4 linked regions of the Homo sapiens genome follow. The protein of the gene in region 1 interacts with the protein of each later gene in a pairwise test. Each region holds a gene or a part of one and is shown in the gene's direction. Other genes may lie near its edges. The genes, in order: AHCYL1, ZNF165, PLEKHG5 and PPEF1.

What was found.
Region 2: the proteins of AHCYL1 (region 1) and ZNF165 interact in binary tests that used the Homo sapiens proteins (3 or more experiments, as listed by UniProt).
Region 3: the proteins of AHCYL1 (region 1) and PLEKHG5 interact in binary tests that used the Homo sapiens proteins (3 or more experiments, as listed by UniProt).
Region 4: the proteins of AHCYL1 (region 1) and PPEF1 interact in binary tests that used the Homo sapiens proteins (3 or more experiments, as listed by UniProt).

The regions. Positions count from the first base shown.
Region 1 is NC_000001.11:109,987,750-109,994,779, forward strand, and holds part of AHCYL1 (S-adenosylhomocysteine hydrolase-like protein 1), read left to right. Parts: intron 1-7,030. UniProt on the Homo sapiens protein: Multifaceted cellular regulator which coordinates several essential cellular functions including regulation of epithelial HCO3(-) and fluid secretion, mRNA processing and DNA replication.
Region 2 is NC_000006.12:28,076,613-28,083,573, forward strand, and holds the start of ZNF165 (zinc finger protein 165), read left to right. Parts: upstream 1-3,955; 5' UTR 3,956-4,358; exon of another isoform or gene 4,359-4,918; intron 4,919-6,961. UniProt on the Homo sapiens protein: May be involved in transcriptional regulation.
Region 3 is NC_000001.11:6,474,657-6,481,686, reverse strand, and holds part of PLEKHG5 (pleckstrin homology domain-containing family G member 5), read left to right. Parts: intron 1-4,028; coding exon of another isoform or gene 4,029-4,115; coding exon 4,116-4,158; intron 4,159-5,650; coding exon 5,651-5,756; intron 5,757-6,164; coding exon 6,165-6,225; intron 6,226-6,548; coding exon 6,549-6,640; intron 6,641-7,030. UniProt on the Homo sapiens protein: Functions as a guanine exchange factor (GEF) for RAB26 and thus regulates autophagy of synaptic vesicles in axon terminal of motoneurons. Involved in the control of neuronal cell differentiation.
Region 4 is NC_000023.11:18,822,633-18,828,435, forward strand, and holds the end of PPEF1 (serine/threonine-protein phosphatase with EF-hands 1), read left to right. Parts: intron 1-1,290; coding exon 1,291-1,454; intron 1,455-3,118; coding exon 3,119-3,203; intron 3,204-4,643; coding exon 4,644-4,855; 3' UTR 4,856-5,285; downstream 5,286-5,803. UniProt on the Homo sapiens protein: May have a role in the recovery or adaptation response of photoreceptors. May have a role in development.

The DNA.
Region 1 (7,030 bases):
CTATGAACAAAATAGGACTTGTTGGTTTGATTGAAGATTTGAGATGTCTGGGTGTCGAGAAGTCAACTAAAGGGATATGACCTTGAGCAAATTAATTAGCTTTTGTACCTGCATCTCCTCATCTGCCAAATAAGTGCCTATTTTTTTTGGAACAGGTGGAGATAGGGGCATGTTGGGGAGTTAAGATAGCAGTGTAATTTTTTAAAAGTCTATTCGTATATTTATATTCTTTCTTCAATGGGCATTTGAAGTGGCTTATAACACAGAACATATATGTGATATAAAAGGAAGTAAAAACTATAGAAAGAATGAAAAAAATATTGTTAACCTCGAGGGCTAAGATAGTTGATGAGGTTGATCACATGCAACTTGAAACTTTTAGCAGCCAGAGGATGAAAAGAATCATAGTTACAGTCTCCTTAGCAGGCATGGGAAATAATACATGTCAATTCCTCAAGGGGACGACTTTTCCTGACACAGAGTTCTAAAATAATTTTTCACGGGAATGTCTTAATAGCTGTAGTGTAATTCACATTGTAAGGCTTGTTCACGACTGTCACTGGTGATTTCAGATGGTATGGCTAGGAAAATTTGAGGTAAGAAAAGGAATCCTTGAGTTTTAAGAGTTAAGTGTACCACAACTGAAGAAGATCCTTGTTTAATGTTGGCAGTTATCGGTCAAACCAAGTAAGTAATCTAGTTCCCCATAACCACTGGTTATTTATCCCTCTTTTGCTGCTACTTTGTGTAACAGGAGTGGTAACTGTCCTTGGACCTTTGGAAATTGACACTGTGTCAAGTTGATTCTTTTTTCATAGTGTAAACCCAAATCTCCAACTTGTTGGAGAGCTCTTACAATAAGCATGTTTCTCCGGAAGGCCTTTCAGAACATTTGCTGTTCTCTGAACTTCTGAACATTAAAGGCACTCTCCAGAGTGATCCATTAAACATTTTGACCTAGGATCTGTGGAGTCAGACCCATCAGCAAAATGTGGGGAAGGAGAAGAGCACAGAAGAAACTACTTTTGTTTATAGGATATTCTTTATTTGAATGAAGCTATGTGCCACTAATTCATCAAAAGGGTCAGCTGAGACTTAGGAAGCACACCAAGTAGAGCCCCAATGGGTACAGCTTGGGTGTTAACCCGATAGGTAAAATCCAGGTTTCTCCTTTTGTCATCAGAGTTATCTTACGGTTAATTTTTGGTGCAGTTGTATAGAATTTACGCCAGGACTTGTCAGAATCACTGAAAGGAGATTTCATAGGTTGGCATTTCCTATCTTCACATCATTAGTATCTCTTGATTCTCCTTAGAGTGGCTGCTGTTGTAGTAGCAGTCTTTAAAACAGGAGTTGGGGTGTAAGAAGATCCTCTTTTTAAGATTTCTCCGCAGGTATTGATTACATCTCTTTTTCTTGTTTGGTTTAGTTAGTTACACTCTAGTTTCCAAATTACTTTGTTCCAAGTTTCTTTAGACATTTAGCTTGTAACAGAAATCTGTTAGAAGATTTCTAGATCAGTAGTTGTCTAGATCTTTTGCTGCCAAGGTTACAAATGTATACCTTTTCTTTTATCAGGAGTGTGTCATTTGGATCCAGAGTGTTTTACCCAATATAATATTCTTTTTTAAAATTTATTTTTATTTTTTATAGAGATGGGGAAATCCCTGTGTTGCCCAGGCTTGTCTTGAACTCCTGGGCTCAAGCGATCTTCCCACCTCAGCCTCCCGAAGTGCTGGGATTACAGGCAAGAGCCACCACGCCCACCCCAATATAGTATTCTTGGAAAGTTGTCTATAAAGGATATTTTGATACATGGAATCATGCAGGTCTTTAGTTGCCTGTGACTCCTAGCAAGTGTACTCTGCCACTCCGAGTAGTTAATGATCTGTAAATAAGCACTTTAATGCCCTCTTGGGGTTGTTTTAAAGGAACTGGCGAATAAAGGAGAATCATTTATACGTACCTGTTTCTCAAGTTTGGGAATGTGAGTATTGCATTTTTATAAAGAATGTCAACCCTGATTATACTGGATACATTTTATTATAATTTAGAACTGAATAGTAATTCAGAACACATGCTAATGAGGTGCGTCAGAAGCATTCCTGTCATGTGAAGGGCAACCTACGTGCATAGACCAGAATTTTTTCTAGCCTGAAATCTGAGAATCCCCAGTTGAAGACAAATTCTTACCACAAATTTTCCTTTTGATTATTGTCAATACTATCAGTGCCTATTGTGTAGTAAGCAGTTAATAAAAATTCACACAGAATTGCAGTTGCCTTTCCTTTTCTGATTCCATATTTTCCTTTGACTCACTCAAGTAGTTCTTTTGTCCCACTGTTGCTTGGCTGTTACATAAGACGCCTTTAACTTCCCGTTTCTGTTCCTAAAACTGTGAGTAGTAGTACAACATAAGGTAAGCACTGATTTTTGGAGTCAGTTTTACCTTTAGTCTCTACCATCTAATAGTTGTGGGACATTCAACAAGTGACGTCCTTTTCTCATCTGTAAAATGGGGAACAATGATAGTGCTATCTATATACATGGTTGAGAGGGTTAGCATTTAGTAAATAGTAATTAGTGGGGTTTTTTTGTACCTAGAGTGACCATATATCCTGGTTTGCCTGGCGCAATTCTGGTTTATACCTGTTATCCTAGCATGCAGTCCAAGGAGTGCCTCCGTAGCTCTGAAAGTTACCCTGGTTTATGTGGCCACCCTATTTATAACTCTCTGGATGATGCAACATGATAGTGCAAATGAGAGCCTAATTTTGAAATGTTAAAGAGCCAAAACAAAGAAGTTTCTATTGGAATGTCTTTTCAATAAGAAAATTTTTTTCTGACAAAAATGTTATTTTATATAGAGCTTACAGCTACTGAACCCCAAAACATTTTGTTAACTACAGGGGTGGGGTGTGTAGACAGAGATCTTAGAGCTTTTGATGGAGTTGAGATGTCCTCTACCTTACCATTCCCCATTCATCCCCCGTAATACATAATGCACTCATAGAATGTGGGTATTTGTCAGACACTGGGCCAGTCTCAGTCCAGGAGTTTATTTCCTTAAACTTCAGGTGTTTGGGGTTTTCCCAAACTAGAATCCTTGAATTACATGAAATAATTGCAAAGACTTCTGAACTGTGACTTTATCATTTTAGGTATGTACTCCAGCACCCCCGCCCCCATCCCTGCAGGTACTGTTTTCTCATTGCTCTTAACAGCCTGCTTCTAATTATGTATAACTGATTTTCTCCTGTAGAAATGTGTGGCCTTTGCTGCATGCCACTCATAGAACTAGAGTGGAGCATCCATGCCTTTGTTGAGAGACTCAGACTGCTTTCATTTTTGTTTCTATCTCTGTTTAATTTTTCTAAAGGATTTAGCCTGGTGCCTTAATCTCAGAATGTAGATAATGATGGATACTGCTTATCAGTATACATTGGGGGGCTTAATCATTCACTACCCAAATGGAACACAAAGTAAAAAGTTTAATGAACTATTGGTAAAAGGTAGTATTTGGAAATCTGGGGTAGAGATTGGAAAAGTACTTTTGAGAACCACAGGTACAAGACTCTCCAAGCATGCTCCTGCTTCTTACCATAAAAGCCCCAACGCCTCCGCTGATGTGCCTGTGTACTTAACCTGTGGGGCTTAATGGGCTTAACATGTTCTTCTCTACCAGCCCAAGCCAGTTCACTTGTTTTAAAGTGGACAGCCTGTACTCAGTTGTGTGATGGAAATGGGGCATATTAAACAGGAGGGGTCTGGGACTGCTCTCTGTTCCATGCTGTTCATCTTGGACCTGCCTCAGGCTTACTTCTTCACAATTTGAGGAACTGCTCAGCAAGAGCACACCCTATTGTTGACATGTTTTTCTTTTCTCTCCGGAACCTGCGAGTGTACGATGGCATTAGTGGAATCCCTCTGAGCCTGTGTGCCAAGGAAAATGCTAATGTGCTGATCCACAATGATGTGTGGCTCAGTGTGAACTACGTAGTAAATTTGTGAGTGACAGAGTAAAGGGGCAAGAGGCTGGAGGAGATGAGTATAACCATCTTTCATTCACTTAGACTTCCTGAATGAAGCCGTTCATACTGAGTTTTGAGCAATGAGAGGATTTTGGAAGTTCTGTTTTTAATAAATGGCTCCAACTCTTCTAGTACTTACTAATTGTATTAAGGTGAACCTTTGGGACATAGGTTTCCATATGCTTAATGGGAAATACTTTGTCCCTTTTCCCCCAAGACTGGCTTGACCTCACGTCAAGACCTCACGTCAAAGCTTTTGGGCCATGACCTGTTTCCTTTGTGGTTCCAGAAATCTGGGGGCGGGGGGAAGAAAAGAGAGAGACCTACCATAAAAGTTAATAGGACAGGCTGGGCCCAGTGGCTCACGCCTGTAATCCCAGCACTTTGGGAGGCCGAGGCAGGAGGATCACAAGGTCAGGAGATCGAGACCATCATGGCCAACATGGTGAAACCCCATCTCTACTAAAAACACAAAAAAAATTAGCTGGGTGTGGCAGCACACACCTGTAGTCCCAGCTACCCGGGAGGCTGAGGCAGGAGAATCGCTTGAACCCAGGAGGTGGAGGTTGCAGTGAGCCAAGATCGCACCACTGTACTCCAGCCTGGCAACAGAGCAAGACTCCGTCTCAAAAAAAAAAAAAAAAAAAAAAGTTAAAGGACAGAGATTCTGATCTGCCCTCTTTGACCAGACCCACCCCTTCTCCTTTCTCAAAGACTTTAAGGAGAAGACTTCAGGTTCTCATGACTGTTAGCTTTATTTTGGGGATGTAGAAAATAGAGATTCACTTTGAATTTTCAAAATGCACATCCCCATCTTTGTTTCTAATTTTAGAAGAGAGGTCAGTAAGTAGACAGATTTGTGTAGAAGATAGAGAATTGGAATATGCTTCTCTTTTGCCTATTTGAGGGAATGCTCTTGAGAATCACTGGATTAGAGACTGTAGAACAATGGTTCTTACTCTTTGAGTCAGAGGTCCTTTTAAGAGTTTAATGAAAATCCTGGTTCTTTCCTCAGGAAAATTCAGGAGCACAAAAATATGCGTATTCTGTTAGAGGATTTATGGGACTTCTGAAACTCATGGATCCTGGGTTTTAAAGTCCTGATGTGGAAGGCCAGGCCTCCAAGCCACAGCATCTCTTTTCATTACAAGTCCACAAACTGCTAAGAGATTTAAGTTTCCAGCCTGCAGTTTGTCCTTATGGCTTGGAACAAAGCTGAGGTTGTTGGCATTGTCAGCTCCCTCTTTGGGATGCTCCTCAGCTTCCCAAAAGACTCATTATAAGTGCCTTGAGAGTTCAGCTCAGGAACTTAACACACATTCGAACCGGCATTTCGGCCACTTTGGGGGAATTTTTGGTATTATCTCAACTCTACTGCTCTTCATATGAAATGCAGATGCCCCTGAAGCTCCAGAGCTGATTCCGTAGGAGTGTTTGAAATAGTAGCTCACATAGTAGATTATCAAAACTAAACAAAATAATTTGCTTCTGTATGTCTCTCAAAAATAGGTTGGATTTCAATGTAGTACTTCTCAAACTATTATATTTTAAGGACTGACCTGATATTTGAATTTTACTCATCATTTGACTTTTCTAGATGGAATATGTTGAGGGCAAAGACCGTATCTCACACATATTTATATAGTACCTGGCACATAATACTGTCAATAAATGCTTATTGAATAAAATAATGTGAGATAATCATTCCTTGGAGAAAGTAAGTTGGACTTATGTGGTGGCTTTGACTCACTTTCCCTTTCAGTTGGCTGGGGTGATTTTTCTAACTTAGAGCCCTCTCACATAGGTATAAGGAAGTACCAAGAACTGCAGGTGAGAAATTGATGAGAATTTCCAACTTAATAGATCCCTTTATAAAGCCAGAAATAGGAGGTCAGGGAGAAGACATCTGAATATATGCCTCCAGCTTCTTAGCCCAGTGGCAGTGGGCATAGGGATATCCTTAGACAATAATGGGGAAGGTAACTTGAATTTCTCACCATTGAAACAACTTTTAAACCCTTAGCATTAGGGAGACTCTGTCCAAAGTTGAAACTGGTATCCTGGTTTATACATGCTCTTGATTTAAAGAACAGGGAGGCTTTCACATAGGGTATTTGAGGTTTGGGGATTAGCGATGAGTTGAATAGTTTGATTTTGGAAAGTACATTGGAACTCTGAAAGTAATAAACAACAGCTCCGTCCGGCAGTGATGAGCAAACTTCTGGTTCTTACTCTGCAACCCTGGCTGCCCCTTCTGAGTCAAAGGCTGAGTTTGATGCTCAAAAGCTATACATGCCCTTCTCTCTTTGAAACACACCTTCTTTAGAATTACAGTCTTCTGGGAACTGGGCCAATGCTTATCCTAGCCAGAAGCTCAGGCTCTAGTTGGCACTACATTTTGTGTGTTCTGTTTCACTTCAAGTGTATAACTTAGGCAAGATTCAGGGGAAAAGGAGACCTTCAGAATTTTGCTATTTTGTGTTGTTTGTTTGTTTGTTTGAGATGGATTTTTGCTCTTGTCGCCCAGGCTGGAGTGTGATGGCACGATCTCGGCTCACTGCAATCTCCACCTCCCGGGTTCAAACAGTTCTCCTGCCTCAGCCTCCCAAGTAGCTGGGATTACAGGCATGTGCCACCACACCTGGCTAAATTTTTTTTGGTGTTTTTTTTGTTTTTGTTTTTGTTTTTAGTAGAGATGGGATTTCATCATGTTGGTTAGGGTGGTCTCGAACTCCTGACCTCAGGTGATCCACCCGCCATGGCCTCCCAAAGTGTTGGGATTACAGGCATGAGCCACTGCACCCGGCAAATTTTGCTATTTTGGAAGTTGAAATAGGTGCTTCCTAGAGATAGCAGATGTATCCAGTTGCTTTGGTAACTAATTCAGTTTCTTATGGGTGGCCAGGTGGTATCCCACTTATTATTCAATACTTGAGGGTTCAGTGCCCAGCTTCTGAGCACCAGCTTTCTTAGCAAGCAAGACATGAAGATTCCCAGTG
Region 2 (6,961 bases), on another chromosome or scaffold:
GAGGGTCTGGTACAGCTCTCCTGGAAGATTCCCAAGGAAACCAAAATTATTGTAGCAAGGCAGAGTTAATACCAGCTTTATTATGCCAGAGAGTGGGAGACGCCCTATGTGTTTCTAATAAGTTTTTGTCATTTCACTGTTAGCTTGAGTTGCCTTCTCCTTTTGCTGTTATATCATTCCCACTGGCACCTGGAAATCCTTCCAAAATGTTTTCCTGGCCTGGGGCCATCACACAGCCCATCTGCATGGCCAACCTAACTGCTGAGTGTTTGGTCTTATGCCCTTGAATAGCCATGTAGGAACTCCATGGTGGACTGAGCCACTACTGGGTAAAGACTGGATCTCTGTACAAACTTGGATGACCGGACAATGCATATAAATAGGTACCCTAGATTCCTCTAACACCACACATGCAAATGTGAGTGATTGAGATAGGACATTGAACAACTACAGACAAAATTTAAGTTTTTCCCTAAACATGTCCCATAGGAGGCAACCATCAAAGTGAAAACTGCCCTGAAGAGCACCAGGTTCTGGCAATGGAGATCATACTGGCAAATGTGGGATGGCTTTCTTTAGCTCATCCTTACAGCAAGGATGCTCTCGAGTTGCATAGATCTGTTGGGAACAACATAATCACTCTAAAGACATTCAGGTAATACCTAAGGTATTCTCCTAGTACCTAGATTTCCTCCCAATTGCCCAATGCCAACACACCATTATCCTTAAGGTCACAGATTGATTTGTCACAAACAGTCTTGTAGGCCAGGAATATACTGAATTGCCCCAGATGGCACCCAGTGGCTCTCTGCTACTAACCTCCAGCCCTGGCTTCCCCTGGGGTGGCTTGGATGACTCCAGAATCTCTGGCACCATTCCTGTATCCCTCAATGAGTCCATCTGGAGAGGTCAGTGGAGTAGACCTGTTTTTTCTTGGTGGGATTACTTATTGACTATATTTGTGCCTCCAGGAGGTTCTTCTGATACTGTGTAGAAGCTGGAAGCCCTTCAGAGATTTGTCTCCACAGCTTTGAACAACACCAAACATGGTATGGAGGCCTTGAACATTGAAACAGCTGCAGTGAAAAAAGTGGTCTACAAAACCAAATGGCCCTAGAGATGCTGACATCTGTGCAAGGGGGAACCTGTGCCCTTTACAAAAGTGAACATTGTGTGTATATTCTAGACAAAGAAGCTGAAGTTAATCAATCCGTCCTTCACTCACGAAAGCAATTACAGCTTACTGACCACATAGGGTATGCCTGGTGGTCTACACAAAGTCATGTTTTCCAGGATGGGGTCCTTGGTGGAAAGCTCTGCTAGGAAGCCTTTTGGAAAATGTGATTTTAGATTTTGTCAGGTGCACTTGTATTTACTGTTAGTGTAGGTTTTGTTTGCAGTGTTTCATAAAGCCAGGGGAAAGAAATTGCCGATGATCCCACCCTTTCTGACCAGCTCAGGGAACATATAGGAAGAGATGGGCATGTGAGATTGTAAGAGCCAGTCAGGAAAATGGATTGCAGGATCTCTGACTGGAAATCACAGAGCCTTGACTATTCTGTGACTGAAAATCAGAGTGCCTTGACCTCTCTGTGACCTAGCCAGCTGCAGATTTTTTCCCAGCATGCTTGAACCCAAACTTGGGTCTTGAACATTCCCAGGCACTGATAAAGGTATCTAAGTTGTCACTGAAAACAGTGAAAGAAACTAGCTCTGGCCCTGAGCCAAATTCTTTAAACCCTTATATAAACTCCATACCCTGACCCCCTCACTGCAGACATATCTAGGTAGAATGTCCCTTTTCTCTCACCACCCATGGGGAGGATTCCTGCAACACTATGTAAGTTCCCTTAATAAATGCTTTGGACAGATCACCTTGGCACATAGTGCTCCTTTCTTTGGAATCCCAACCAGCCCCAACTAGGACGGTTTTGGGCACTCCCTTGTGTGAACTCCCCTGCCACCACTTTTGGGGGACAAAACAGTACATATCTAATAGAATCATCTTGTTAAAAAGCAAGGGAACAACAAATACAAAATTTGTGATAGTGTTTCCTCGGATGAGAGGTAGTATAGAGAGGGACTAGAAAAAGAGTAGTATTAAATCTAAGTTGTTGTCAATCTACAGTTCTTATAGACTAGGTAATGGATTAAAAAATGTTCACACTTTAAGGCCATGCATGGACCAATGACAGCCAGTGGTTTTAATTAATACCATTTTGAATATCTGAGTTCCACTGGGGTAAGGGGATGAATCAAACAAGGCCTCAGAAGAAAAGTTGTCTGGGAATGCAGGAAGGTTTTGCAGAGGAGATGAAGTTTCAGTTGCAACCCTGCTGCGTGGGCTTCAATTTCACCACCTGAGATTTAAATAGAGGCAGGAGTCACTCAGGCTAGAATGCAGTGGTGCAATCACAGCTCACTATTGCAGCCACCACCTCCTGGGCTCAGGCGATCCTCCCACCTCAGCCTCCCGAGTAGCTGGGAGTACAAGTGCATTCCACAACCCCCGACTAATTTTTTTTTTTTTTAATTTTTGTAGAGACGAGGTCCCAACTATGTTGCCCAGGCTGGTCTCGAACTCCTGAGTTCAATTAATCCTCCTGCCTTTGCCTCCCAAAGCGGGGAATTAGAAAAGTGAGCCAACACGCCCGGCCCACTAGTGTTAAAAAATAAAAACAAAAGCAATAATCTGACAGATAGAGCCAGGGAGGGCTATGAAGAGACACTTCTCAGGCTTGTATGCCTCATAAGAAAACTATCACATATGACTGCAAAACCCATCTTACACCAAAAATACCTCTGCAAGGACATCCGCCCAGCAACTGTTTGTCTAACCTCAGACTGGTGTCATCCTCGTTACCGATCTTTGTAGTCAAGAATAATGATTTCAAAACAATTAAATAATCCTCCCCATTCTTCCTTTAAAAACCTTTGTCTTCCTTTACCTCCCTGAATAGAAACATAGTTTACTCTGGCACGTCTATTCTTATTGCAATTTCCTATTCCCGAATAAACTTTTTTTTTTTTTTTTGAGATGGATCCTTGCTCTGTCGCCCAGGCTGGAGTGCAGTGGCGTGATCTCAGCTCACTGCAACCTTCACCTCCTGGGTTCAAGCGATTCTTCTGTCTTAGCCTCCCAAGTAGCTGGGACTACAGGCGCCCACCACCACACCCAGCTAATTTTTATATTTTTAGTACAGACGGGGTTTCACCATGTTGGCCAGGCTGGCCTTGAACTCCTTGTTAAATACAGTGAGTTCTAAATTTCTCTTCAAAGAATCAGTATGTCAGTATGTTCAATTCTTTGTTCTCCATTTTAAACTTTAACTTCCTCATTTTCCTCGTCTCCTTGCCTCTAGTTTCAGTAAACAACCTTTTCCACCAGTTCTAATCAGTAGTTCACATCTGTTCCCCTGGTGACCTGCTCCGTCCTGAGTCACCCCTGGTCACCTGCTCTGACCTGAGTCACCTTTAGTCACCTGTTCCGTAACCGTCCTTCCCACTGAAACTGCTCACCCTACCACTCCGGCTCATACCCCTGCTCTCTTTAAAATAGCCAATCGGAATTAACTTAGACTGTGCGGTCCAACCCTAGCCAGTAGGGGAACGACACAGCACTAGGGACTACCTGCGTCAGGGATAAGAACCCCTTCCCCTCCCTTGTTCAGGTGTGCTCTCGCCATTGCTCCATCCGTGAGACGCACCCTTCTATAGAAGTAAATTGCTTTGCTGAGAAAATGTGTGCTCGAGTGTGTATCTTTTTCTTCTTCTTCTTTTTCTGAGACTGAGTCTCACTCTGTCACCCAAGCTGGAGTGCAGTGGCGCGGTCTCGGCTCACTGCAAGCTCCGCCTCCCGGGTTCAAGCGATTCTCCTGCCTCAGCCTCCCGAGCACCTGGAACTACAGGCGCGTGCCACCACGCCCGGCAATTTTTTTTTTTTTTTTTTTTTTTGTATTTTTAGTAGACACAGGGTGTCACCGCGTAAACCAGGATAGTCTCGATCTCCTGACCTCGTGATCCGCCCGTCTCGGCCTCCCAAAGTGCTGGGACTGCAGGCGTGAGCCACCGCGCCCGGCCAACGTCATTTTCTTTTCAGGAGTCCCTTCTGTTATTTAGCAAGACACACTACTACAATGGAGAAAAAAGATGCCCCCTCCTTCAAGCCCTGAGATCTTCAGGACTTTGGCGAAAAGTCTGCGCCCGAAGAGACCCAGGAAGGATTCTTGGAATTGTAGTCCAAAGGCATCCCGCCTTCTGCGCAGACTCACAAGTCCCTGTGGACGGAATTCTTGAAGTGTAGCGCCGCTCAGTCCTTCCACCGGAAGTGTCCGATCGGAATCAGCCCTGTCCGAGAGGTGAGTCCGGGTTTGGGGATCCAGATGTCCAGCCCCGTGTCCCCCTCCAAACATCCAGTCCCTCTCATATTGCCTTTGAAATTAGCAGCCTCTGGGTGACCAGACCTTGGCCCTCAGAGGAATCCCGGAGAAAGGTAGAACCAGCTTCGGCGTTGGGAACGCAGGCGCGCTTACGCATTTAGTGAGGGTTTGGCGGTCTCCATAGTTACCGCCGCCGCGCGTGACGTCATAGTGGAGCGCTGAGGGCTTGGTGGCGTGGGGTGGGGGCTGTCCTACTGATCCTGAATTTGGGGTCACTGGTAAGAGGAGTTGCCCATTCCAGCCAGGTGGAACGGGGAGGGGTGCCACATGTCTCAGATCTGCCATTGTCTGCGAAAAGAAACTGCTGCGAGGACCATCCCCAATCCCCTGCTTCCCTTGGGAAGAGTAACCGCCGTTTTGTAGGACACTTGGGGACAACCCCGCTTGTCCTGAAATTTATTGACACGGTAAATAGTATTTCCTGTGTGCCGAGGATGCAGTTAAACCAACACTGACCCCCTGCCCTTGAGAAACACAAGGTACTATGGGAGCCTTTACCAGCATGCCCCTTGAAGTCTCTGTTCTGCTTTGTGGTCTCTACCGGATTTCCCCTGACTGTCTCCCTCTCCACCAACAAAACTCTCACCCGTCTTCCCCTCCCGCAACATGCCCACCAAGACATGTTCATCCATCAGGAGCCCTGCTCTTTAACCTCCAACTTTCTCATCATAATTAATTACTCGTTCCTCTCTGTTCTCCTAGCGTTTCTTCACACATCTGCTTACCCATTTTTGTAAGTCCTCCTAACACAATATTATAAGGCACTAGATGCTCAATCAATATTTATTAGTTTAAAGCTACCAGCTTTAGGGGGACTCGGTTTTAAATAGATGAGAAGTGATAAAACACCTGGAGATAGTACTGTCAGCTGAGATAACATGTCATAGAACCAGCTGCTCAGCATAATTGAAATTTCATTCGGATTATATGGGCCTACTTTACACCCATCTTACTATGGTAAATGAGATCATGCTCATTAAGCATTAGGACACTACTTGGTTAGCGCATCTAGGAAACATAACCAGAAATATCAAAGAAATGGCCCAGTAAAATATAAGGGATTGAGACTCTCTGGTTAATATACCATGGAACTAACCCCCCTTTTTTTTCTTTATCATTGATAAATTTTGTTCTTACTTATACTCAAATTGTTTGTTTTCCAAGGTTCAGTCTGAACCTAGTGATATTTATTTCATACTCTTGGAGAATTAATACTGTTACATATCTTCAACTACCCTTTTCATGAATCTTGTCTGCCAAGACAAGCTCGGTCATGGAGACCCTAACCCAGTGGCGCTAGAGGAATTAAAGACACACACAGAAATATAGAGTGTGGAGTGGGAAATGAGGGGTCTCACAGCCTTCAGAGCTGAGAGCCTTGAACAGAGATTTACCCACTTATTTATTGACAGCAAGCCAGTGATAAGATTTACTGAAAGTATTCCTTACGGGAAATAAAGGGATGGGCCGAAATAAAGGGATGGGCTCTGGCTAGTTATCTGCAGCATGAACATGTCCTTAAGGCACAGATCGCTCATGCTATTGTTTTCTGCCCTGGGTGGGCCAGGTGTTCCTTGCCCTCATTCCAGTAAACTGACAACCTTCCAGCGTGGGCGTCAAGGCCATCATGAGCATGTCACAGTGCTGCAGAGATTTTGTTCATGGCCAGTTTTGGGGCCAGTTTATGGCCAGATTTGGGGGCCTGTTCCCAACACTTGTCAAAATCTGTCTTCCCATTCCAAATTCTTTTCCATTATTGAAATATCATTGTTTCTGTTGGAAATATTTTTCCAAGTAGATGTCTTATTATCATCTTAAATACAGATCATCCAAAACAGAAGTCATCTGAAACTTTCCTAATTTTTCCTTTCAATCATAAATATGAAGCCTTAAGAACAATTAATAATGCATGATCCTTAACCTCATGGAACATCAATCAGTTGATAAAAAAACAGCCAAACAACTAAAAATAATACAAGGACTTATATATTCATATGTGTATGTGTTAGGAATTGTAAGAACTCAGACTAGAGTTGAGCAATTTCTTAACAGAGGCAGTAGAATTCTTAGTCACTCCAGCCATCACACCCTGCAAGTTGATCTCACCATCAGTCTGCTGCTCATTCCTACTTCCTCTACTCTGTTCCTTTCCTTTCTGAATCTTTCTCATCCTTTATTGTCCAATTTAAGCCCCATGTTAAATACAGTGAGTTCTAAATTTCTCTTCAAAGAATCAGTATGTCAGTATGTTCAGTTCTTTGTTCTCCACTTTAAAGTTTAACCTCATCTCCTTGCCCCTAGTTTCAGTAAACAACCTTTTCCACCAGTTCCAATCAGTAGTTCACATCTATTCCCCTGGTCACCTGCTCTGTCCTGAGTCACCCCTGGTCATCTGCTCTGACCTGCATCACCTTTAATCGCCTGTTCTGTAACCGTCCTTCCCACTGAAACTGCTCACCCCGCCACTGTGGTTCATACCCCTGCTTTCTTTAAAACAGCCAGTTGGAATTAGCTTAGACTAT
Region 3 (7,030 bases), about 100 Mb from region 1:
TTCACCATGTTAGCCAGGATGGTCTTGATCTCCTGACCTTGTGATCCGCCTGCCTCAGCCTCCCAAAGTGCTGGGGATTACAGGCATGAGCCACCGCGCCTGGCCTTTTTATTTACTTATATATTTATTTATTTATTTATTTATTTATTTATTTATTTATTTTGAGACGGAGTTTTGCCCCAGGCTGGAGTGCGATGGCACAATCTCGGCTCACTGCAACCTCTGCCTCCCGTATTCAAGCGATTCTCCTGCTTCAGCCTCCCGCGTAGCTGGGATTACAGGCATGCGCCACCATGCCCAGCTAATTTTGTATTTTTAGTAGAGACAGGGTTTCTTCCATGTTGGTCAGGCTGGTCTCGAACTCCCAACCTCAGGTGACCCGCCCGCCTCGGCCTCCCAAAGTGCTGGGATTACAGGCATAGCCACTGCTCCTGGCCCCTTTTGGCTTTTATTCAGAGTGAGATGGGAACCCTTGGAGGGTTTTGAGTAGATACAGTGGGACTCCTCTTTGAACAGGGCCCACTCTAGCTGCACATGGACAACATATTGTGGGGGATGGGGGTAGCAGTGAGGCCAGTTTTGAGGCCATTGTTGTCATCTAGCTAAAAGGTGGCTGGGCAGTGGCACGCTTATGAGCTGTGGCTGGGTTGAGGCCACAGATACTAAAGGTGGAGCCAGCGGGATTTTCGGGCTGACCAGATGGGGGCATAACAGAGAATGTCAAGAGTGACCCCAAGCTGATATGGTGGCTCACACCTGTAATCCCAGCACTAATTCCAGCACTTTGGGAGGCTGAGGCGGGCGGATCAGTTGAGCCCAGGAGTTCGAGACCAGGCTGTGCAACATGGCGAAATCCTATCTCTACTAAAAATTAGCTGGGTATGGTGGTACATGCCTGTAGTCCCAGCTACTTGGGACGGTGAGGCAGGAGAATCACTTGAACCCAGGAGGTAGAGGTTGCAGTGAGCCGAGATTGCGGCACTGCACTCCAGATTGGGTGACAGAGTGAGACCCTGTCTCAAAAAAAAAAAGGAAATCCCCCACCTTGCAGCCATCAGAAGAATCAAATAATTGATTTAGGTTAAAATCATCTATGTATGCTAAAGCTCTTAGGACCGCAAGCTCACATCACCATGCCTGGCTAATTTTTTTTTTTTTGGAGACAAAGTCTCGCTCTGTCACTCAGGCTGGAGTGCAGTGGTGTGATCTCGGCTCACTGCAACCTCTGCCCCCGGTTCAAGCAATTCTCCTGCCTCAGCCTCCTGAGTAGCTGGGACTACAGGCGTACGCTGCCACGACTGGCTAATTTTTTTGTATTTTAGTAGAGACGGGGTTTCACCGTGTTGCCCAGGCTGCTATCGAACTCCTGAGCTCAGGCAATCCACCCGCCTCGGCCTCCCAAAGTGCTAGGATTACAGGCATGAGCCACCGTGCCTGGCAATTTTTTATATTTTTAGTAGAGATGGGGTTTTGTCATGTTGGCCAGGCTGGTCTTGAACTCCTGACCTCAACTGATTGAGTGAGATTACTGGGGAACAAGACATCTCAAAGTGCCATGCCACAGATTACTTATTAATTATAGGGGAAAAAGGGACTCTACAAGGTACAGAGGTCCCCAGAGGATCCAGCATTACAGGCAAATAGCAAGAACACACAGCTCTGTGGTGTCCCCGCCTGAACGCTCAGTTTGAAACTTTCTGAGGACCACCAGGGAGATCCACATTGAGGAGCTCTGTGCGAGGCTGCTGGCTCGAAGACTTCCAAAATGTCAAGGTCAGCCAGGCACAGTGGCTCATGCCTATAATCCCAGCTCTTTGGGAGGTCAAGGCGGGCAGATTGCTTGAGCCCAGGAGTTCAAGACTAGCCTGGGCAACATAGTGAGATCTGTCACTACTAAAAATAAAAAAGTTAGTTGGGCGTAGTGGCATGCACCTAGTATTCCCAGCTACTAAGGAGGCTAAGGCAGGAGGATTACTTGAGTCCGGGAGGTTGAGGTTGCAGTGAGCTGATCATGCCATACTACTCCAGCCTGGGCTACAGAGCGAGACCCTGTCTTGAAGAAAAAAAAAAAGTCAATGTAATAAAAGACCACAAAAAACAAGGCTGGGCACGGTGGCTCACGCGTGTAATCCCAGCACTTTGGGAGGCCGAGGTGGGCGGATCACGAGGTCAGGAGATCGAGACCATCCTGGCTAACACGGTGAAACCCCATCTCTACCAAAAATACAAAAAATTAGCCGGGCGTGGTGGCGGGCGCCTGTAGTCCCAGCTACTCAGGAGGCTGAGGCAGGAGAATGGTGTGAACCGAGGAGGCGGAGCTTGCAGTGAGTCGAGATCGCGCCACTGCACTCCAGCCTGGGCGACAGAGCGAGACTCCGTCTCAAAAAAAAAAAAAAAAAAAAAAGGATAAACAGACATAACCAAATGCCACGTGTGAAACTTGATTAGTTCCTATATGAGGAAGTATATCTGTAAGAACGTTATTTAGACACTTGGGAAAATGTCAATATAGACTATATATCAAGGTTCAGTTTCCCAAGTGCGACAATTCTATGGGGTTTTGTAGGAAAACTGTCTTTGTTCTTAGGCAGCAGCATGATTTCTGCCCCAGGGGAGGGGGGTGCCGAGAAGAGAATGGGAGAGAAGCAGATGTGGTAGATATCAACTTGGGGAGTCCAGAGGGCATGTGGATGTCATGTGCTATTCTTATAATTTTTGGTAGGTTTGAAATATTTTAAAACAAGTCTGGGCGCGGTGGCTCACGCCTGTAATCCCAGCACTTTGGGAGGCCGAGGCAGGCGGATCACCTGAGACCAGGAGTTCAATACCAACCTGGCCAACATGGTGAAACTCCGTCTCTACTAAAAATACAAAAATTAGTCGGGCGTGGTGGATTGTGCCTGTAATCTCAGCTACTTGGGAGGCTGAGGCAGGAGAATCACTTGAACCCGGGAGGCGGAGGATGCAGTGAGCTGAGATCGTGCCATTGCACTCCAGCCTGGGCAACAGAGCGAGACCCCTTCTCAGAAAAATTTAAAAAAATAAAAAGAAAAGAAATATTTTAAAACAAAACTTGGGAAAAATAAAGAGAGTGGGAGGAGAGAACTAGGAAGTCGTGAATACTGATACCTGTTTACAGAGTTTAGCTGTGAAGGGAAAGAAAGAAAGTCAGCCGTAGCTGGAGGGTGAGGTGAGGCCTCTGTAAAATGGAGAAATAAGGCTGGGCGTGGCAGCTCATGCCTGTAATGCCAGCATTTTGGGAGACCAAGGTGGGCGGATCACTTGAGGCCAGGAGTTTGAGACCAGCCTGGGCAACATGGTGAAACCCCGTCTCTACAAAAAATACAAACACTCGCCTATGGTGGTGTGTGCTTCTAGTCCAAGCTACTCGGGAGGCTGAGGCTCGAGGATCACGTGAGTCTGGGAGGTCAAGGCTGCAGTGAGCCATGATTGTGCCACTGCACTCCCTGTCTCAAAGAAAGAAAGAAAAAAAAAGATGGAGAAGCCGGGCGCGGTGGCTCACGCCTGTAATCCCAGCACTTTGGGAGGCCCAGGCGGGCTGTTCACGAGGTCAGGAATTCGAGACCAGTCTGGCCAACACAGTGAAACCCTGTCTCTACTAAAAATACAAAAAAAAAATTAGCTGGGCATGGTGGTGTGCGCCTGTAATCCCAGCTACTGGGGAGGCTGAGGCAGGAGAATTGCGTGAAACCAGGAGGCGGAGGTTGCAGTGAGCCGAGATCAAGCCATTGCACTCCAGTCTGGGTGACAGAATGAGACTCTGTCTCAGAAAAAGAAAAAAAAGAAAAAGATGGAGAAATAACCACGTGTTGGTGTGGCAGTGGGGGAAATGATCCAGCAGAGGGGAAACTTGATGATGTGGGAGAGGGGGGACTGCTGGGGGGCGTCTCCTCACCCTGGATCGAGAGATGGAGGGCAGTTCATTCTAAGTCCCTGCAGCGCTGGGCCGGGGTCGAGGGATGTGGTGGATCTCGTGGACCTCCTGAAGGCTTCTGTCCCCACCCCAGGTATGTCACCACGCCGACTGCCAGCAGCTGCACCGCCGGGGGCCCCTCAACCTCTGCGAGGCCTGTGACAGCAAGTTCCACAGCACCATGCATTATGATGGGCATGTCCGCTTCGACCTTCCCCCACAAGGTGAGCACAGGCGGGAGCCGCAGCTCGGCCCCCAGAGCTCCTGTGTCAGTGTTTCAGTAACTGTCGGAAACGTGCTAGGGCGTCATAAGGACAAGTCGACTGTAAATAATGAAACCCGAGTATGTTACGGTTCCTTTTGTTCCAAATGTTTTTTAGCAAGAGAGAAAGTCCATGAGCGTGCCCCTTCCAGAGGCAGGCCTTTCTCTATCTGGTGCTGTGCTCTCACTGGTTCTCACCTCCCCCAGCTGCTTTTGCCCCTGGCCTGTGGCCCACACAGAGAAGGCCCCTTTCTTTCTAGTTCTGCCTATCCTCAGGGCAGGGGACTTCTGGACAAGTCCTGCAAGCCAGGCTGTGGGCCTAGCAGAGGCAGTGTGGAGTGGGGGTGGCCAGGTCAGGAGGCACTTGGAGCAGGAAATAAGAAATTCCTCTTGCTGAGCAGGGACCCAGCTCAGGCCCACCATCAACTGCCTATGGAGGAGTGGCTCGCAGGCACCCAGGCCTGGTGAGAAATGCCAACCCCCGAGTCCTTTCCCAGCTGATCAGAGGAACAAAAGGATTCTTCTGGTTGGGCACGGTGGCTCATGTCTGGAATACAAAAAATACAAAAATTAGCCAGGTGTGGTGGCACACACTTGTGGTCCCAGCTGCTCGGAGGCTGAGGTGGAAGGATCGCTTGAACCCCGACAATGGAGGCTCCAGTGAGCCCTGATCGTGCCACTGCACTCCAGCCTGAGCGACAGAGCAAGACCCTGTCTTAAAAAACAATAAACAAACAAAAGACTCTCTCCCACTGCCAGGGCCCCTTGGGAATTCAGGTGTGGTCACAGCATGGGGGAGGGGAGGCCTGGAAGAAAGAGCCATGGACTTTGGTCCCTTCCTGTAATAACCTCAGAGGCAAGGCTTCCTTATCCTTATTTTATAGAAGGGTAAACTGAGGCCACAGGTGAGTTTGTTTTTGGGGTGGAGCTTCACCATGGGTGTCATCCCAGGGCCTTTGTGTCCTTTTGGGTCTGTGGGGATAGACAGCAATGACTAAGGCCAGGCAAGGTGGCTCACACCTGTAATCCCAGCCCTTTGGGAGGCTGAGGTGGGTGGATCACTTCAGGTCAGGAGTTTGAGAACAGCCTGGCCAACATGTTGAAACCCTGTCATTACTAAAAATACAAAAAAATGAGCCGGGTGTGGTGGCACACGCCTGCAATCCCAGCTACTCAAGAGGCTGAAGCATGAGAATTGCTTGAACCCAGGAGGTGGAGGTTGCAGTGAGCCGAGATCATGCCACTGCACTCCAGCCTGGGTGACAGAGTGAGACCCTATCTCAAAACAAAAACAAAAAACAATGACTGAGCCCCTCTCCTCACAGAACTGAAGGGCCCTTGCTACCTTTAATCTGGGGGTTCCAGGGTAACAGGCTGTGGTCCCTCTGGAGGCAGCCATGCTGCAGGCTAAGGAGGGGCGGGGGAGGCACAACCCTCTCCTGCTTTCTCCCAAGGCTCTGTGCTGGCCCGGAACGTGTCCACCCGGTCATGCCCGCCGCGCACCAGCCCCGCAGTGGACTTGGAGGAGGAGGAGGAGGAGAGCTCTGTGGATGGCAAAGGGTAGGTGAGGGATGAGTGGGCAGAGAGATACCTGGAGGGCCCCACGGCTGGGTCTCAGATCAGACATTCAGGACCAGATGCTCTGGCGCCTTCCTCAAGTAAGGCTGATGGGCAGACCTCTTCCCACGCCTGTGGCTGTCCTGACTCCGGGAAGAGGCCACCCAGCCTGGGCCAGCCTCCAGGGTGCTTGGGATCCTAGCCCACACCAGACCAGGTACCGTTCGATGTGACTCCCGTGTTGGCCACCAGAGGGCGCACAGCCCTATGCGGGCCTGGCCGGGTTGAATCCACGCGGGTTACCTGTCACCTGGGGTGAGCCAAGGGCGGGGAGGCCACAGGCCCACTCGCCGCCCACGCTGGCGAGGGCCACCCACACCTCCAGCCTCTGCCCTCCTCGCTTCCCTGCAGGGACCGGAAGAGCACAGGCCTGAAACTCTCCAAGAAGAAAGCAAGGAGGAGACACACGGATGTGAGGAGCCCCCCAGAGCCGGCAGATGCGGGTTCCCTACAGCCTGCGCCCTTCCCCGAGCCTGGGCCTTCCTCCGGGATGGGGGTGGGGAGGTCTGCATCCCAGGGTGCAGAGGTCTGGGAGATCGCTGGGGTTCCCTTTCTTGCTGGGGTTCCCATCCGAGACCGGAGGGTGGGGAGGGTGGGGAGGAGGGTTGGGAAGGAGGGTGGGAAGGAGGGTGGGGAGGAGGGTTGGGAAGGAGGGTGGGAAGGAGGGTGGGGAGGAGGGCGGGAATGAGGGCGGTGAGGAGAAGCTCACAGCCCCCACCCCCACCATCCTCCCAGGACCCAAGCAAGGAATGCTTCACTCTGAAATTTGACCTGAATGTGGACATTGAGACAGAGATCGTCCCAGCCATGAAGAAGAAGTCACTGGGGTAGGGCTTGATGGGGCTCAGGGTGGAAGTGGGACTGGGAGTAGGGGTGGCCCCATGTTGCAGGCTCCGGGTCTCTGCAGGTGTGACGTGTGTGTCTGTGTGGTGGCCCGTGAGCGAGCGCATCCCTGCGTGGGCAGACCCGTGCTGGTGTGCACGCCAGTGTGAGGGAGTGCGGTGGGGTCTGTGTACTTGTGCATTTTAATCATGTATGCAGGAGCCAGGCCTGCGTGTGGGCAGGCGTGTGACAGGTCTGCCGTGGTATGCAGATGCGCCTGTGTGAGCACCTCTGCGGGCAGGTGTCTGTGGACCTGCGTGTGATCCCATGCGGGCTTCCCTTTTCCGTTGGGAAGGTGGGGGCAGCTGGGGCTGTGGGTGGGGCGGGGGCTCGTG
Region 4 (5,803 bases), on another chromosome or scaffold:
CAAGTAGCTGGGACTACAGGCGCCCGCCACCATGCCTGGCTAATTTTTTGTATTTTTAGTAGAGACGGGGGAGGTATGAGATTTCTAAGATATTATTAAGATAAAGGGGACTGAAATAAATGGGTGGGTATTACTGTGTTCAAGGACTATAAGGGTTGAAGTTGTCAAGATACAAATTCCTCCCAAATTGAGCTATAGTTTCAATGCAATCTCAGTCAAAATCCCAAGGTGGGGATTTTTCAGTAGATCTTGAGAATCTGTATCTAAAAGTCATGTGGAATTACAAAAGGCCCCAAATAGCCAAGATGTTCCTGAAGAAAAAGAACAAGGTGGGAAGACTTTCCCTATTATATATCAAGATCTATTATAAAAGTACAGTAATTAGAATGGTATGCAATTGGCACAAGAATACCCATATAGACAATGGAAGCAAGTAGAGAATCCTGAAACAGATTCATGCATATATAGACACTTGAAGGTCCCACTGCTGAGCAGTGGGCAAAGGAGTCTTTTCAATAAACGATGCTGGGCCAAATGGATATCCCTATAAAAATAGAAACAGCCTATATGTAATAAAGATATTTGTGTTTTGAAAAATTACATATATTAGGAGGAAAAGAATATTAGTTGTGAAATGACAGGTGAATAATACATCTTTTATTCTTTGTATTCTTTTGTGTTTTTCAAATCTTCTATAATAAGCAAACCTAGGCCGCGCATGGTGGCTCACACCTGTAATCCCAGCACTTTGGGAGGCTGAGGTGGGCAGATGACTTGAGGTCAGGAGTTCAAGACCAGCCTGGCCAACATGGTGAAACTCTATCTCTACTAAAAGTACAAAAAAATTAGCCGGGTATGGTGGCGTACACCTGTAATCCCAGATACTTGGGAGGCTGAGGCAGGAGAATCACTTGAACCCAGGAGGCGGAGGTTGCAGTGAGCTCAGATGGCACCACTGCACTCCAGCCTGGGTGAAAAGAGCCAGACTCCTTCTCAAAAAAAAAAATAAATAAATAAATAAGTAAGCATACCTTACTTTGTTAATCAAAAAAAAGGAAAAAAAAAATCTAACACGTGAAGTCTGATTTCTTACAGGTGACAGGAAGGACACGATCTGTGGAACACTGAAGATATCCTTGAGTTAGTTCTCCTTCAGGGCTGCAGGGCCTGGGAGGATAAATTATGAGGGAGAGCAGCTGGCCCCATGCTGCCCTGGCTCTCCCAAGGAGGTTGCATTCTTTAAAATCATATTTTAACAAATCATTTGGGCTTTGTTATTGTTGTTGTTAGGAAAACTTTCTGTGAGCCAGTGGGCTTTTTGCATGGAGAACATTTTGGGGCTGAACTTACCATGGAGATCCCTCAGTTCGAATCTGGTAAACATAGACCAAAATGGAAACGTTGAATACATGTCCAGCTTCCAGAATATCCGCATTGAAAAACCTGTACAAGAGGCAAGTGAAACATAGCCCCAGCTAAAACCTAGCCAGGGTGAAACATAACTTAGTCCTTTGAAAAGCTGGGAGTGGCCGGGCACAGTGGCTCACGCCTGTAATCCCAGCACTTTCGGAGGCCAAGGCGGGCAGATCCCGAGGTCAGGAGTTCGAGACCAGCCTGACCAACATGGTGAAGCCCCGTCTCTACCAAAAATACAAAAATCAGCCGGGTGTGGTCGTGCCCACCTGTAATCCCAGCTACTCAAGAGGCTGAGGCAGGAGAATTGCTTGAACCCAGGAGGCGGAGGTTGCAGCGAGCCAGGATCGCACCATTGCACTCCAGCCTGGGTGACAGAGCGAGACTCCATCTCAAAAAAAGAGAAGCTGGGAGTGGGATAATCTAATAGATGGAGTGGCAGTCTTAGGAAAAGCCGAAGGGGAATCTCCCAGGTACACTGTGGTCTGTTCAGCAAATTTGTGTGTTCCCAGGATAAGCAAAAAGAAAAAAGAAAAAGCTTCCACAAGCAAGTCCACATCAAATACTGGATTTTTTTTTGTAAGTGCTGTCTAGCAGAAGGGGAGATATGACATCCATGCTTTTTGTTTGTTTTTTGAGGTGGAGTCTCGCTCTGTTGCCCAGGCTGGAGTGCAGTGGTGCAGTCTCGGCTCACTGCAACCTCTGCCTGCCACGCTCAAGTGACTCTCCTGTCTCAGCTTCCCAAGTAGCTGAGATTACAGGCGCCTGCCACCATACCCAGCTAATTTTTATATTTTTAGTGGAGATGGGGTTTCACCATGTTGACCAGGCTGGTCTTGAACTCTTGACCTCAAGTGATCTGCCCACCTCGGCCTCCCAAAGTGCTGGGATTACAGGCATGAGCCCCTGTGCCTGGCCTGACATCCATGCTTTTATACAACATACCATTTCTAATACTTAATGTATTGCTTGTTAAGCCTGAGTGTACAGACTTGCTGACATGACCCAGAATATGTCTGAAAGAGTTTTGAAATGTAGAAATCTTTTCTTAGAATGTGAATATCAGGGAGATTTATCAGATCCCCATACTTATTAGTTAACAATTCATCAGCAGTTAAATATGACATTGAGCTGAAAAGGAGCTGGTTGGAGCTAGGACTTGGGTGATCATTTGCAGTGAAGATGAGACGTTAAGAGCAGAGAGAAGGGAAGTAAAGGTAGGTTAGAGACTAAAGTATCCCCAGGAAGGAGGCTTTTGACGTCACTTCAGAGGCAGTTTACCATGGTGACTAAGATCACAGGCCTTGGCTTCAGGCAGCCGAGATTTAAATCCCACTCACCAGCTCTGTGACCCTTGGGAAAGTTCCTTTATCTCCCTGTTTTCAAATTTGTAAAATGGACATAATAATAGTTCTGTTCTTGTTCATTCTTGTTGTAGAGGACCGAATGAAATAATCCACATAAAGTTCTCTGTAAATGGTGGCTGTGTTAGTTACTGCTGCCTTATTCATTTTGGCCCTGTCCCCTGAGGATCACAGACTGAATGAAGAGGGTGGGGCCTCCAAGGGAAGTCTGGCCTTCTCAGATTTCTGTCTAAATCACATCATTTCAATTGTTGATGATGTTTTCTGTTTGTTACATTTGCTAAAAGCGATCAGTGTCATGAATTCAATATGTTCTAACACTTAGAAAATCTTTATTTTAGGCTCATTCTACTCTAGTTGAAACTCTGTACAGATACAGATCTGACCTGGAAATCATATTTAATGCCATTGACACTGATCACTCAGGTAAATAAATGAACTTGGATGAGTCCATTTAAAAAGTGTATGTGTGTGTGTATGTTGGGGATACAAAATGAGTACACTTTGATTGAGCCCTATAATTAATATGGTTTGACACCTTCATTGGTAAGATGGAGGCCTTGCTTATGCATACTGTTAAATGAAAATTGTAGGAGCCCATTGTTTTGGACTAAGCTCCTTCACCAGGCCCCAACAGACTAGACTAAAAGTCAAAATGGGGTAGCAGTAGTAGAAAGCAAAGGCTAATCTGGTTCTCTGAAATCAGAACTCTGATTTTATCTATTTTGTTCTTCATCTAACATGATGAAACTTGAGGGGAAAAAGAAACTCATTTAATATTATTGTTATTTCAGTTTGGCTGCAGACTCTGTATTCAAGACCATAGAGTCCTACAGAAGCCTAGGTAGCCATCAGTCAAACTGAAATAACTTTTTATAAATCACCAGCACAAATGAAAAGATGATTTACTATCCATTTCAGTATCTTAGTTACTCATGGCCATAAAAATCATTCCTAGAAATCTGATTCTGTTTTGGGGAGTAAGGGCTATGAAAAGTCATTTTCTGCTTTTTTTTTTTTTTTTTTTTTTTTTTTTGCGACAGAGTTTTGCTCTTGTTGCCCAGGCTGGAGTGCAATGGCGGGATCTCAGCTCACCACAACCTCTGCCTCCCGGGTTCAAGCAATTCTCCTGCCTCAGCCTCCTGAGTAGCTGGGATTACAGGCATGCGCCACCACACCCTGATAATTTTTATTTTTAGTAGAGATGGGGTTCTCCATGTTGGTCAGGCTGGTCTCGAACTCCCGACCTCAGATGACCTGCCCACCTCAGCCTCCCAAAGTGCTGGGATTACAGGCGTGAGCCACTGCGCCCGGCCTTCTGCCTTTAGCTTTGATGCACAATTACTTATTTTCAAATTTTTAAAAACTCATCAGATAATCCCCTAATGCAGAGACCTTTGAACACCGAAAAAAAAAAAAAATCAATGATCAACACATTAAAGTAAATGATTGCCTGTGAAAAAGGCAGCACCATTGTTTGTAATCCTCTTATTGACTCCCACCGTATCTTCTCCCTCTGCTTTGATGTCATCCTCCTCTCTGCCCTCCTTCCATGCACCTCACCTTTCTATTTTAGGTCTTGTAATTTCTATACCACATTTAGTCCCATAGTCCACAACCCCGTCCCCATTTCTTCACTGTTTGCTCATTCTGGCTTTAGAATAAGTTCAGGATCCCTTGGTAGTTGAAAGTGAGATATTGTTTCTTACATTTATGATCTTACTCTTCCATATCCTTCAGTATCTTCATGATTAGGCAGTTTAGTGAGTTTCTAACTGGGGCTATTTAATCAGTGTGGGTTCCCCAACCCTTGCCTTAGGTGGGTCTTAAAATGAACACTCACAACCTTCTCCTATATTCTTTTAGGCCTGATCTCCGTGGAAGAATTTCGTGCCATGTGGAAACTTTTTAGTTCTCACTACAATGTTCACATTGATGATTCCCAAGTCAATAAGCTTGCCAACATAATGGACTTGAACAAAGATGGAAGCATTGACTTTAATGAGTTTTTAAAGGCTTTCTATGTAGTGCATAGATATGAAGACTTGATGAAACCTGATGTCACCAACCTTGGCTAAACACAAATGAGAGCTTCCCTCAGGCTCCCTGAAACAGCTAGGCCCAAATCACAAGTACAGTCCTTTCCAACACCCCTGAAATTCATAGTCAGTAGCAGAGAAAAGCAGATCCCAATTCATCCCACAAACAGATGCATAGTATGGGTTTTGGAAGTCCCTAGCAAGCTGTTATTGGTAAGATTAGGTTAAATGTCAGTAATAGGATTTGGTTTCAGCATTAGTACCTACATATTGCCAGTGAGAAACTGGGTTGGACCTAGTGGTGTTGTCGTGAGTGCCACCTAACCAGGAGGCCAGAGCGGTTTGAAAACATCCTGAAAGGAACTCATACAGCACAAGAGAAAACTACTAAGCTTGACATCTGTGAGTGACTGAGGGAGACAGGAGGAATACCAGGTTATTCATGGAATAAAGTCTTTCCATCTTTAAACTGTGATCTTCTTTGGAGATTTTATAAGCCAGTGATCCTCAATTAAGGGATCCACCCTTCAGGGATGAGAACCATATTGGATTCTTGGGGGGAATCTGTGGGAGTGTATTGTTTGAAAAAGCGTATTTGTGTGTGTGTGTATGTTGGAGATACAAAGTGAATACACTTGGATTGAGCCCTATAATTAATATGGTTTGACACCTTCATTGGTAAGATGGGGCCTTGCTTATGCATACTGTTAAATGAAAATTGTAGGAGCCCATTGTTTTGGACTAAGCTCCTTCACCAGGCCCCAACAGACTAGACTAAAAGTCAAAATGGGGTCACCCATGCTGAGGTCCTGTGTCATCTCCGGCCAGCTTCAATTGGCATAATAATGAAGTTCCCTCTGCCTTACAACAAAAATAACCTGATGTTAACCAATCAATTATTTGTTTATTGTTATTTCCCTGCTGTCTTACAAGGAAGGTAACTTTGAAACAACCAGTCTGCTTTTTGTCCTTTGGTTCTGCTTTCTT